2 separate regions of the Homo sapiens genome follow, and region 1 is linked to region 2. The links come from fine-mapping of genetic effects on gene expression. Tissue or cell type: whole blood. Region 2 holds a variant in brackets; the other region holds the start of a gene. All regions are shown on one strand. Distances are from middle to middle. Region 1 holds the start of RETREG1 (reticulophagy regulator 1). Region 2 has its middle 24 kb from the start of RETREG1.

Region 1 (5,371 bases), 23 kb after region 2:
TTGGACTTTCTTTACTGGAGCTGTCTCATTTTCTAAACTCTCATTCAGTAGCTAGAACTTTTTTTTTTCTCAGACACGTTTCCAGTTTCCTTTTCTCAGATATATATTGTCAAATCATCTAGCTCACTAGTGTTAATCACTCTGTTCCTAATATATAGCAATAAAATTTCAGAAGAGAATCTTAGTAAGATTACTTGCAGGAGTTCAAGAATGTGGCGTGTTCTTAAAACTAGGGGACAAGGTTGATTTCAACCATTGTTAGCATTATGTTTCTGTAATCTTAGCCCTGAATAAATTACTCAAGCATCACAAAGATCATTAGACAAACAACAAAACAACAACAAAATCCCACCCAGCAGCACCATTTGTATGTCTATGCCAGTGTCTACTTCTGTCATACAGTTTGTAAGTATTAGAGGTCGGAGGTGAAAAGGAAAGGTTAATTAGCCCAGCCTTTTATGCAAAACAGGTTGCATAGCATTTTCTCCATAGTAATTTTGAGAGAGAGAGAAAGGATAGACTTTACAACACATAGCTGTGGGGAAGGAGGTTTATTATTAAACAGAGATAATAAATAAGTGTTGGAAACCACACACAGCAACTGGAGCTTAGCTTTTATGTGTCTTGGTTGCCAGCAGCTTTTACTACTTCAACAGATCCTGACAACAATAATTAGAATTCAAGGGAAGCAGGAGGAAGGTGATTAATCTTGCAAACCCATTTCTGGTAGCACATCAGCACTGGTCTGGGGAACGGGGACACCTGGTTCTTCCTCTCTCCTGCCCCATGTTCTCCACACTGGCTGCAGCACACATCTGTCTAGTGACAGATTTTAGAATAGCAAACCCTGGGCTGTATCAAGCGCCAAACAAAGGCCAAATGACACAATAAAAGCATCATTTATCTTTCAAAAACTTCTCCGCTACTGCCAAGAGGGAGGACCCACACCTGGGAAAAGATTGTCTCTCTTATATGGAAGAAACCTGAATTGTTTCCACGTTGCTTTTTCCTTGACACCCAGGCCACTTTCCATCGGGTTGTCAGGATACTCCTAAGAAGGGGAGTCGGAAATGCCAGATGTTCTGTATCACCTTTAGTTAAAAACCAAGCCTCCTGTTACTAGAGACCATTCAATGTCCACTATTCCCTTTGGTGAGTTACTTAAGGAACTGTGCGTCTCCACCTGCAACCCCATGCCTCCTCTCCTGTTGAATTCCCAACAGCAGTTATTGCCCCTGTCCCCAATCCCCACACTAATGGGGGCCCTACAATTTAGGGCAGAGGCCATTTATTACAAAACGCTCTTGAAACCTGATCCCTCCACTCCTCCCCTAATTTTGGATGCACAGTTTAAGTAAGGAATCTCTTAGCACTTAGCGAAGGCTTCTTCGCTGTGGCAGATATCACAATTGTAACTGGGCCCTCATCAGACTGGGAGCTTCCTGTGGGTGGAAGCTGCATCCACAGAGCTTAGCAATGCTTTGTGTACTCGGTAGGTGCTCAGTAAGCCTTTGCCTGGGCTCTGGGAATATAACTCCTTTGAAGTACAACATACAAGCAGTAAAGTGCAGACACCTGCAGTGAATGTACAGATCAATGGATTCCACGTGTGTATACACAGAGGTTTACAATGGCCACCCAGAGGAGCGTTACAGAACATTCCCCTAGAGACTCCCTTGACGCAGGGAATTTAATTGCCCTCCCTTCCATCCTGTGCAGGCAGGCTGGTTGCCAGTAAAGGGATATGAGATGCCCTGATGCATCCGCAGACAGAACCCTTAGTATGGGGGGGAAGGACCTGTCATTCTAGAGTAAAAGTAAGACCAGGAAGATTAAAGAAGACAAAAATTTAAAAATGCAAATGGTGAAAAGCATAAACAACTATTTTCCTCTCTCCCCACACTCACCCAGAAGCACCGGGGCCAAAGAGAGGGCATGGGAGGTCTCAGGATCCCCTGCCGCCCCACCACTGCCCTGATGCCCGCTTGTGACGCAGAGACCGGAGTGGCTCTGAAATTACTGTCTTCAAAGCAGGCCAAACCTTGCTTGACACGTGCAAAGTTCCAATCTCTTGCTTCTCAGCTCCCCGCACGCGCGGGCCAACGTGCACTTCTGAGCCAGATCACCTAGCCACAAGGAGGGGGAGAGAGGGGGAGATAGGAGGAGAGAGGGGAAGATAGGGGGAGAGACGGGGGAGAGAGAGGGAGAGGCAGAGAGAGAGAGAGAGACAGAGAAGAGAAAGGAAGCACCTGAGACAGAGAGAAAGAAGAGAGAGAAAGGAAGCAGCTTCCCCCAACGCTGCGGCCTTGTGTTTCCTCCCGTGTCAAACGAGAGGGCCCCAAATTGACCCCAAATGTTTTTTCTTCCTTTCTCAATCCAACATTTATACCAGCACGTTATTTCCAGGATGCCCAGGACCTCTGCTATGGTTGTGCTGCTGTCCCTGCAAAGGCGCTGGGGATGGCCGAGGTGGGGGATGTCTCTGGGGGCTGAAATACGCTGCCAGGGGAAGGGGCGCCCCGATACCACCCTCAGTGGCTGCTGGTTGGGCGACCGGTGGCCCTGGCTTGAGAAAGTGAAAATGTCCAATCTATTTTGCCTGGAGCCTTGGGTCTCTTTTGGATACGGAACCGAGCAGCAGTCCTCCACTTCGCCCTCTCCCGCCGCTGCAAGGGAAAAGGTCGTTTTCCTCGAGTCCCGGAGAGGCCCTCCAGGAACCCAGAGCCCCCCGGGGACACCGCCCAGCTCCCGGCGCCCGGCCCCGCCCCTGCGCGAACTCGGCCGCACCCACTTTCCCGGGCGGCTCCCCCTCCGTGGCCTGTGGCGTCACAAGGCCCCCAGCCGCCTGTGCCCCGCGGTGCGCGCCCCGCTCCGGGACCTGCCGCCACCGCCGCCCCGCCCTCGGCGGCACCCACACCCAGGCGCGCCCGCGCGCGCGCCCGGCCCCGTCCCTGTCTGGAAGCACAGCTGAAGATGGCGAGCCCGGCGCCTCCGGAGCACGCCGAGGAGGGATGCCCGGCTCCTGCCGCCGAGGAGCAGGCGCCGCCGTCGCCGCCACCGCCCCAGGCATCCCCCGCAGAGCGGCAGCAGCAGGAGGAGGAAGCGCAGGAAGCTGGGGCGGCGGAGGGCGCGGGGTTGCAGGTGGAGGAGGCCGCGGGCCGGGCGGCGGCCGCGGTAACCTGGCTGCTCGGGGAGCCGGTGCTGTGGCTGGGCTGCCGCGCCGACGAGCTGCTGAGCTGGAAGAGGCCGCTGCGGAGCCTGCTCGGCTTCGTCGCTGCCAACCTGCTGTTCTGGTGAGAGCTTGGGCAAGGTGGGGGCGCTGAGGAGGGCAGGTGACCTTGGGGCGCCCGGGGCCCCGGGGACCCAGTGCAGGGGGAGCCCGCGGGACACTGCGGAGGAAGAATTGTCAGCCCTGCCCCACTTTCTCGGCCACCTGTCTCGAACAGGTAGACACTCACCGCAACTTTCCTCCGGACGCACGTCCCTGTGAGCAGTTGTCGTTCTCCGTGTGCGGATCCAGCCTCAGATGCGAGGTGGTCGGCCGACCCTCAGGCACCTGCACCTACAGGTGTTCCCATCGTGCTTGAAAACTTCGCCCCTGCTTTCTAAAACTCTGAGGTCTTGACCTGCTCGCCCAAGCTTGCCGGAGCAAACGTGCTTGAACGTGTCTTGGTTCTTGCAGCCCCAGCAGGCATATCTGGACCAGATTAGGTACCCGTTCAAAACGGTGCCGCATTCATCAGTCACCTGAGATGGGCCCTGAATGATTTGTTTTTTCCTTCCCCTGGAGCGTTAGGTTTACTGTGTTTACTCCCTGATGAGAAAACGGGAGGCAAACAAGCAGGTGGAGTATGCCCAGCACCCACCCCCGGGTGTGCACAGTGTGGAAAACAGGCATATTTTTAGGTGAAGTACAGGGAGAACACACGGGAATGCTCAGCCCCTGAGCAACAGGTTTGTCTCTCCAAAAAGCGCTCTTCAGAAAGGCCAGGGAAATGTCTGTCTCCTTCGTTGAAAGTGGTGTCCTGTCATCCGTTACCACGCTATTGAGGGCGGAGAAAAACCTTCTTTGTTTGCTAAGTGTCCTCATAACAAACATGACCTACACAGTGCAGAATAATCAGACTCCGGTAACAGATACCTTGTTACAGGACAGAGATTTCTGAACCTTAAAGTTGAGAAATAAATAAATTGCACAAAATAGACAGCCTGTCATTTTCTAGGTTAACTTGAGCAAGATGAATATTTTCCTCAGATCTCTGCTAGTCCTGGTGTTTTCTCTTAAAACTAGCTGTATCTTGTCGGAGGTCCCTGAAAGTGAATTAACTTTGGATCTCTTAGGTATCTGTGTTTGGAATAGAGTTTATTCCAAATCTATCTTATTATGGAGTGAATGCGAGCACTCAAATAAGAAGGACATATTGTCTTATGCTAGATTGGGCAATAGTCTAATAGTCTTAGGGCTGTGTCTCACTAATGTTTACGATGTTTTTAACATTTTATTTCTTTTTCTTTTCTTTCTTTCTTTCTTTTTTTTTTTTTTTTGAGATGGAGTCTCACTCTGTCGCCCAGGCTGGAGTGCAGTGGCGCGATCTCGGCTCGCTGCAAGCTCTGCCTCCCGGGTTCACGCCATTCTCCTGCCTCAGCCTCCCGAGTAGCTGGGACTACAGGCGCCCGCCACCACGCCTGGCCAGTTTTTTGTATTTTTTTTAGTAGAGACGGGGTTTCACCGTGTTAGCCAGGATGGTCTCGATCTCCTGACCTCGTGATCCGTCCGCCTCGGCCTCCCAAAGTGCTGGGATTACAAGCGTGAGCTACTGCGCCCGGCCTTAACATTTTATTTCTTAATTTTAAATTTTATTTCTTTAAAAAACTAATACAGTCTCACAGTGCAAAAGTTTAAAGGTACAAAAGGGTAAGCATTTTGAAAATCTCTTTCTCATCCCAGTCCCTGGCCGCCCAGTTTCCTCACGGAGGCCAGCAATGTTGCTAGTTTCCTGTGTCTCTTTCCAGATAGTGCACATTTCAGCAAATACACCATATTCTATGCAAATTGTGGAATAACATATGAGCTCTTCCTTTTCCTAGTATTTCTTGGTGATTGCTTCCTTGTTCTTTTTCAGCTGCTTCAGAATTCTATTGTAAGGATGTCTCAAATTACTTAACCTGTCTCCTACTGAGGCAGTAATGTTTCCAAGCTTTTGCTATTTCAGCATTATAGCTAATGACCCTGTACATGCATCATTTTGCATATATGCAAGTATTTTAGAGAACTTCCCAGAAGTGGAATTGCTGGGTCAGAGGGCATGTGCACTTGTAATTTTGATGGCTGTCACCATATTGCATGCAGCTCCTTAGGGTTCTAACAATT
Region 2 (5,374 bases):
GAATTTATAGAGTATGTATTAGGGTAACTAGTTGCTTTAGCCAACAAATTCCTATGTTTCAACCACTTAATATAATGAAAGATGATTTTTTGCTTCTGTGACAGTCCAATATCGACATCATGTTGGGAGAGTGGTAGTTACTCCCTGCGGCTCTTCAGGGGCCCAGATTGACAGGGGATCTGCCTTCTACATTTAGCTTCCAAGGTCTCCCTGGGTGGAGCTGGGCAGAGCTGGCAGAAAGGAAACAAACAGTCCATTGAATTGTTGAATAAGGACATTCACTTCTTAACCTTTTCAGCCTGGAAGTGACTTCACTTCTGCTCCCAATCCACTAGCAAGACCTAATCATGTGGCATTACTTACATGCAAGGGATGCTGAGAAATGGATGCAGCGGCTGCTGGGAAATGCAGCTTCAAGCTGGACAACTGCCCTTTCCATAGCAACTGTATTGTACATAAGGAGAGAATGATGCTTTGGTGGACAGTTAGCTGTCACTGTCACAGTCTGCCTCTCTGGCCAAGAAATATTCACAAATACTCTCTTCTCCAAATTCAGAAAATTCTTCCCCTGGCCAAAAATAACACTCAAGGGAGTTAACTCAAAATTCTATTGAGTTACTGCATCCCTAGGAACAAAACAGATGGGCAGCCAGCAAGAGATTGTTCAATCTGTATAACCAAGAGAAATCAAGGATGCGTGATCAGGAACCTGAAAGTCACCAATAAAAAGTCACAATCCCTTGTCCAGTTTCTGGGGTTGAGCCACTGTTTGGCCCCAGGTGCATTGACTAAAGAAAAGACTGTGTCCCTAGGAGGCAGAGCCTTGCAAAACCACACAGCAAGAGGGTGAGGTCCTGGGTCTCCCAGGCTTTTACCAAAGGGATATACTTGGGTCACTGAATACCAAGGATTACCCAAACATTTGAGTGACTGTTGCACGAGGTCTTAGTAGACATTAATACCTAGAGACACAAACGGGCATCTTGGGCCCCTGTTAGAGCGGAGAATATTGGAGTAGCTAAAACATGGAGACTGGCCCAGATCCTGCCTATTTATGGTGTGTCCACTGGGTCTGCAGACTCATCCAAGTGGTCACGTCTCTGGACCCCAAATGTATAATGGAAATAGACATGCTTCATTTGTTGGTTCCTAGGCTTAGGGTAAGACTATCATCGTAGAAAGGACCAAGGGGAATCCTCTGAAATGAACCCCCCTCTATAACCATAGACAGTGCGTCCAAAGCGATACAGCATTCCAAAATGAATGGCAGAAATTAGTGTCATCCCTAAAGGACCAGAAGATGCAGGGTGATGGACCCCATCATGTTGCCATTTAATTCACAAGCGTGGGCCCTGCAAAAACCAGACAGATCCTGGAGGATGACAATGGTCCATGGCAAACTCAATTAAGCAGCAGTCGCCATTGCAACTGCTGTGTCAGGTGTGATATCATTGCTAGGTCAGAATACCTTGGCCTGAGTGGATGTTACATGTGAATTAACATACATTCTTGCTTGGAATCCCATTTTTTAAAAATAATTTCTAATGAACTTTAATTAGAATGTATAACTTTGATGTCTGAAGATAGATGAAACCTGTAGGATATGTTTATTTCTTCAAAGACGTTACATAATTAAAGTGTAATAAATGATATCACCTATAATAACTAATTTTCACATGGTTCTTATTTGGCGAACTCAGTAATTCAAAACATGGCAAGAATCTGGTAGGAAGCAAAACTTGGCTTCATGTGAGTAACTCATAACTGTTCGTGTGAGCTTTGCTGATTCCATTTGTGCTTGAAAAGGGTCAGGAAAGATTATCCTCCCTTTCATCACAGTCAGCAGGCATCCTCTTCTCTCCTCATTCGCCTGTGCCCTCTGCAGCGAATGATCTGTCACCTGCAAAACCATCACCACCACCCCTTAAGTTCCTCTGACCTTCTACCCCTAACTGAAAACCTGTGTATTCCCAGCAACCTTCTCAAGTGAGGGTTGTTTGCATCCCAGCTCTGTGCCACTGGGCCTGGGGTGAGGTGATTATTCTTTTAGCCCCTCCAGACCCTTGCTCTTCCTTCTTTTCTGAAAACCCTCACATTGTTTGAAGCAGTGCTATTGGAACAGACCATCCTTACCCCTTCCTCATACAAGTATTTGGCTGTCTTTCTCTGCCCAACTGTTCTGGAGACTTCCCTCTCACAGACAGTCCATCCAGCGGCCCTGGCTTCTTGGTCCTTTGACCTCCTTACTCCTAGTAATCTTCCCCACCAAACTCTGGCCTGCTGCTCCCAAACTATTTCATTTCACTTTTTCTTTTTCTTTTCTTCTTTTTTTTCGAGACAGTCTCACTCTGTCGCCCAGGCTGGAATGCAGTGGCTCAATCTCGGTTCACTGCAAGCTCTGCCTTCCAGGTTCACGCCATTCTTCTGCCTCAGCCTCCTGAGTAGCTGGGACTACAGGTGCCTGCCACCATGCCTGGTTAATTTTTTG[T/C]ATTTTTAGTAGAGACGGGGTTTCACTGTGTTAGCCAGGATGGTCTCGATCTCCCGACCTCGTGATCTGCCTGCCTTGGCCTCCCAAAATGCTGGGATTACAGGCGTGAGCCACCGCGCCCAGCCTCATTTCCACTTTTTCTCAGCACAGTCCCTCTAGTGACACTTCTCCAACAATGCTAGCCCATGATGACTTCCAAACCAGTGAGGCCACTTTCTTCAATGTCCACTGCTCCCTCCTTCCACAGTCTAGAATCTCTCATCCATAAGTATAATTTCATTTGTATATACCCTCAGCTCCCTCCTCATCCCTCCCCTCCCTACATTTGTCTTCAAAAATCCCACCCACAGCTAAATCCAACTCTCTAAGTCTATATTTGATGGTTAATTTTATGTGTCAACATGACTGAGCCATGGGATGCCCAGATAACTGCTCAGACATTATTTCTGTGTGGTCTCTGAGGGTGTATCCAGAAGAGATTAGCATTTGAATTGGTGAACTGAGTAAAGCCCTTGTGGGTGGGCATTACCCAATCTATTAGCAAAGGGAGGTTGAGTCCACTCTCTGCTGATTACTGGAGCTGCCTTATTGATCTTCTCCTGTCCTTGGAGCACCTGGTTCTCAGGCCTTCTGACCCAGAATGGAATCTACACCATTGGCTCTCTGGCTTTCAGGCCTTGGAATTATATCACAAGCTTTCTTGGGTCTCCAGCTTGCAGACAGAAGCTTGTGGGACTTAATGAAGTATCCATAATCAACCTCCATAATCACATGAGCCAATGCCTTATAATCCGTTTCTTTCTGGTTATATATATCTTATTGGATCTGTTTCTCTGAGGACCCCTGACTAATGCCCTGTATTTGAGCAGCTGAATATTGCTGGAGAAACATAACCACGATAGCTCTCACTTTATCACAGTCTTCAGAAGCTGGCAGCCCCTTCACATCCATCCTGCCACCCTTCCCTAATGAATTCAGTCTCTTGTTTCCTGACCCAAGACCACTTTCTCAAAACTCCTCTCTAAGCTCCCTGCAGCCATTCCTTCTATTTGTCACTTATTGCACTGTGAAAATCCAATGGTTAGCAGAGAACATTTGCATCTTCTACAACATCTTCCAATTTATCCTACATATTCTCATGGCCTTCATGCCATGTAGATGCTGACTTTCTCTCCCTTGAGCTTAAGGTCTTCCTATTTGATCTTCTACTTGGTTTCTCCACTTGCATGTGTATTAGGCAGGTGAAATATAGCACGTCCAGAAAAGAATGCCTGATTTTCTCTCCCCCTTATTTCCTATCTTGCTCAGTTGTCAGGCATCATTCTTGACTCCTCTGTGTCCCTGACATTCCACATCTAGTCCATGAACATGTACTGTTTCTACCTCCCCTGGTCTTCCAAATTCAACCATTTCTTAGCACCTCCACCACTACCATTCTCTCTTTCTGTGACTACTACAGTAGCCCCTACCAGATCTCCCAGCCTCCATGCATGTTGCGTCATCGGTAATCAGAACCATCTTTTAAAGATGAAAATTGGCCAGGCGTGCTGGCTCATGCCTGTAATCCCAGCACTCTGGGAGGTTCAGGAAGGTGGATCACTTGAAGTCAGGAGTTCAAGACCAGCCTGGCAAACACGGTGAAACCCCTTCTCTGTTAAAAATGCAAAAAATTAGCCAGGTGTGGTGGCATGCCCCTGTAATCCCAGCTACTTGGCAGACTGAGGCAGGAGAATCGCTTGAACCCGGGAGGCAGAGGTTGCAGTGAACCGAGATTGCAGCACTGCACACTAGCTTGGTGACAGAGTCAGACTGCCTCAAAAAGATAAATAAAGATGAAAATTGGATCAAGTATCTTCTTGCACAAAATCTTTCATTGGTTTCTCATCACTATTTAGAATAAAATTGAGTCTCCTTCCATGGTCTGCGAAGTCCTGCACTGTGGTCCACTCTGCCACCTCTCCAACCTCATCCCCATCGCTTTTCCATCCCCAGCCCTGGTGTCCTCTGCTCTTCTTGTTTCTTGAGCATTTCAAGCTGGTTCTGGCTTCACAATCCTCACCCCTGCTGTTCACTGTCTAGCATTGGCTTGCCTGCAGAATTTCACATTACTGGCTGCCTTACTTCATTTAAGTGTCTGCTTAAAAGTCACTTCCCTGAGGGTGGAGCCAAGGTGGCCAAATAGGAACACCTCCAGTCTACAGCTCCCAGTGCGAGCAACGCAGAAGACGGGTGATTTCTGCATTTCCAACTGAGTTACTGGGTTCATCTCACTGGGGAGTGTCAGAAAGTGGGTGCAGGACAGTGGGTGCAGCACACCGCATGTGAGCCGAAGCAGGGCAAGACATCGCCTCACCCGGAAAGCTCAAGGGGTCAGGGAATTCCCTTTCCTAGTCAAAGAAAGGGGTGACAGCACCTGGAAAATCAGGTCACTCCCACCCTAATACAGCGCTTTTCCAACAGTCTTAGCAAACGGCACACCAGGAGATTATATCCTGCGCATGGCTCGGAGGGTCCTACGCCCACAGAGCCTTGCTCATTGCTAGCACAGCAGTCTGAGATCAAACTGCAAGGTGGCAGCGAGACTGGCGGAGGGGCGCCCGCCATTGCCCAGGCTTGAGTAGGTAAACAAAGTGGCCATGAAGCTCGAACTGGGTGGAGCCCACCATAGCTCAAGGAGGCCTGCCTGCCTCTGTAGGATCCACTTCTGGGGGCAGGGTATAGCCAAACAAAAGGCAGCAGAATCCTCTGCAGACTTAAATGTCCCTGTCTGACAGTTTTGAAGAGAACAGTGGTTCTCCCAGCACACAGCTGGAGATCTGAGAACGGGCAGACTGCCTCCTCAAGTGGGTCCCTGATCCCCGAGTAGCCTAACTGGGAGGCACACCC

Evidence for each region. PIP is the estimated chance that this variant, and not a neighbour inherited with it, causes the effect.
Region 1: it holds the start of RETREG1, and the variant in region 2 is fine-mapped to the expression of RETREG1 in whole blood (TOPMed, PIP 0.93).

What each region holds. Positions count from the first base shown.
Region 1 is chr5:16,614,574-16,619,944 of GRCh38, reverse strand. It overlaps RETREG1 (reticulophagy regulator 1), which reads left to right and starts at 2,948. Exons shown (of 9, transcript NM_001034850.3): 1 at 2,948-3,293. The coding sequence starts at 2,974. RETREG1-AS1 (RETREG1 antisense RNA 1) reads right to left here and starts at 4,019. Exons shown (of 4, transcript NR_109946.1): 1 at 3,459-4,019. RefSeq lists a silencer at 2,705-3,194.
Region 2 is chr5:16,638,023-16,643,396 of GRCh38, reverse strand. No RefSeq gene overlaps it. Among named protein-coding and RNA genes, the nearest start is that of RETREG1, 24 kb to the right of the region's middle. The variant T/C (reference allele first, on the strand shown) is at 2,489.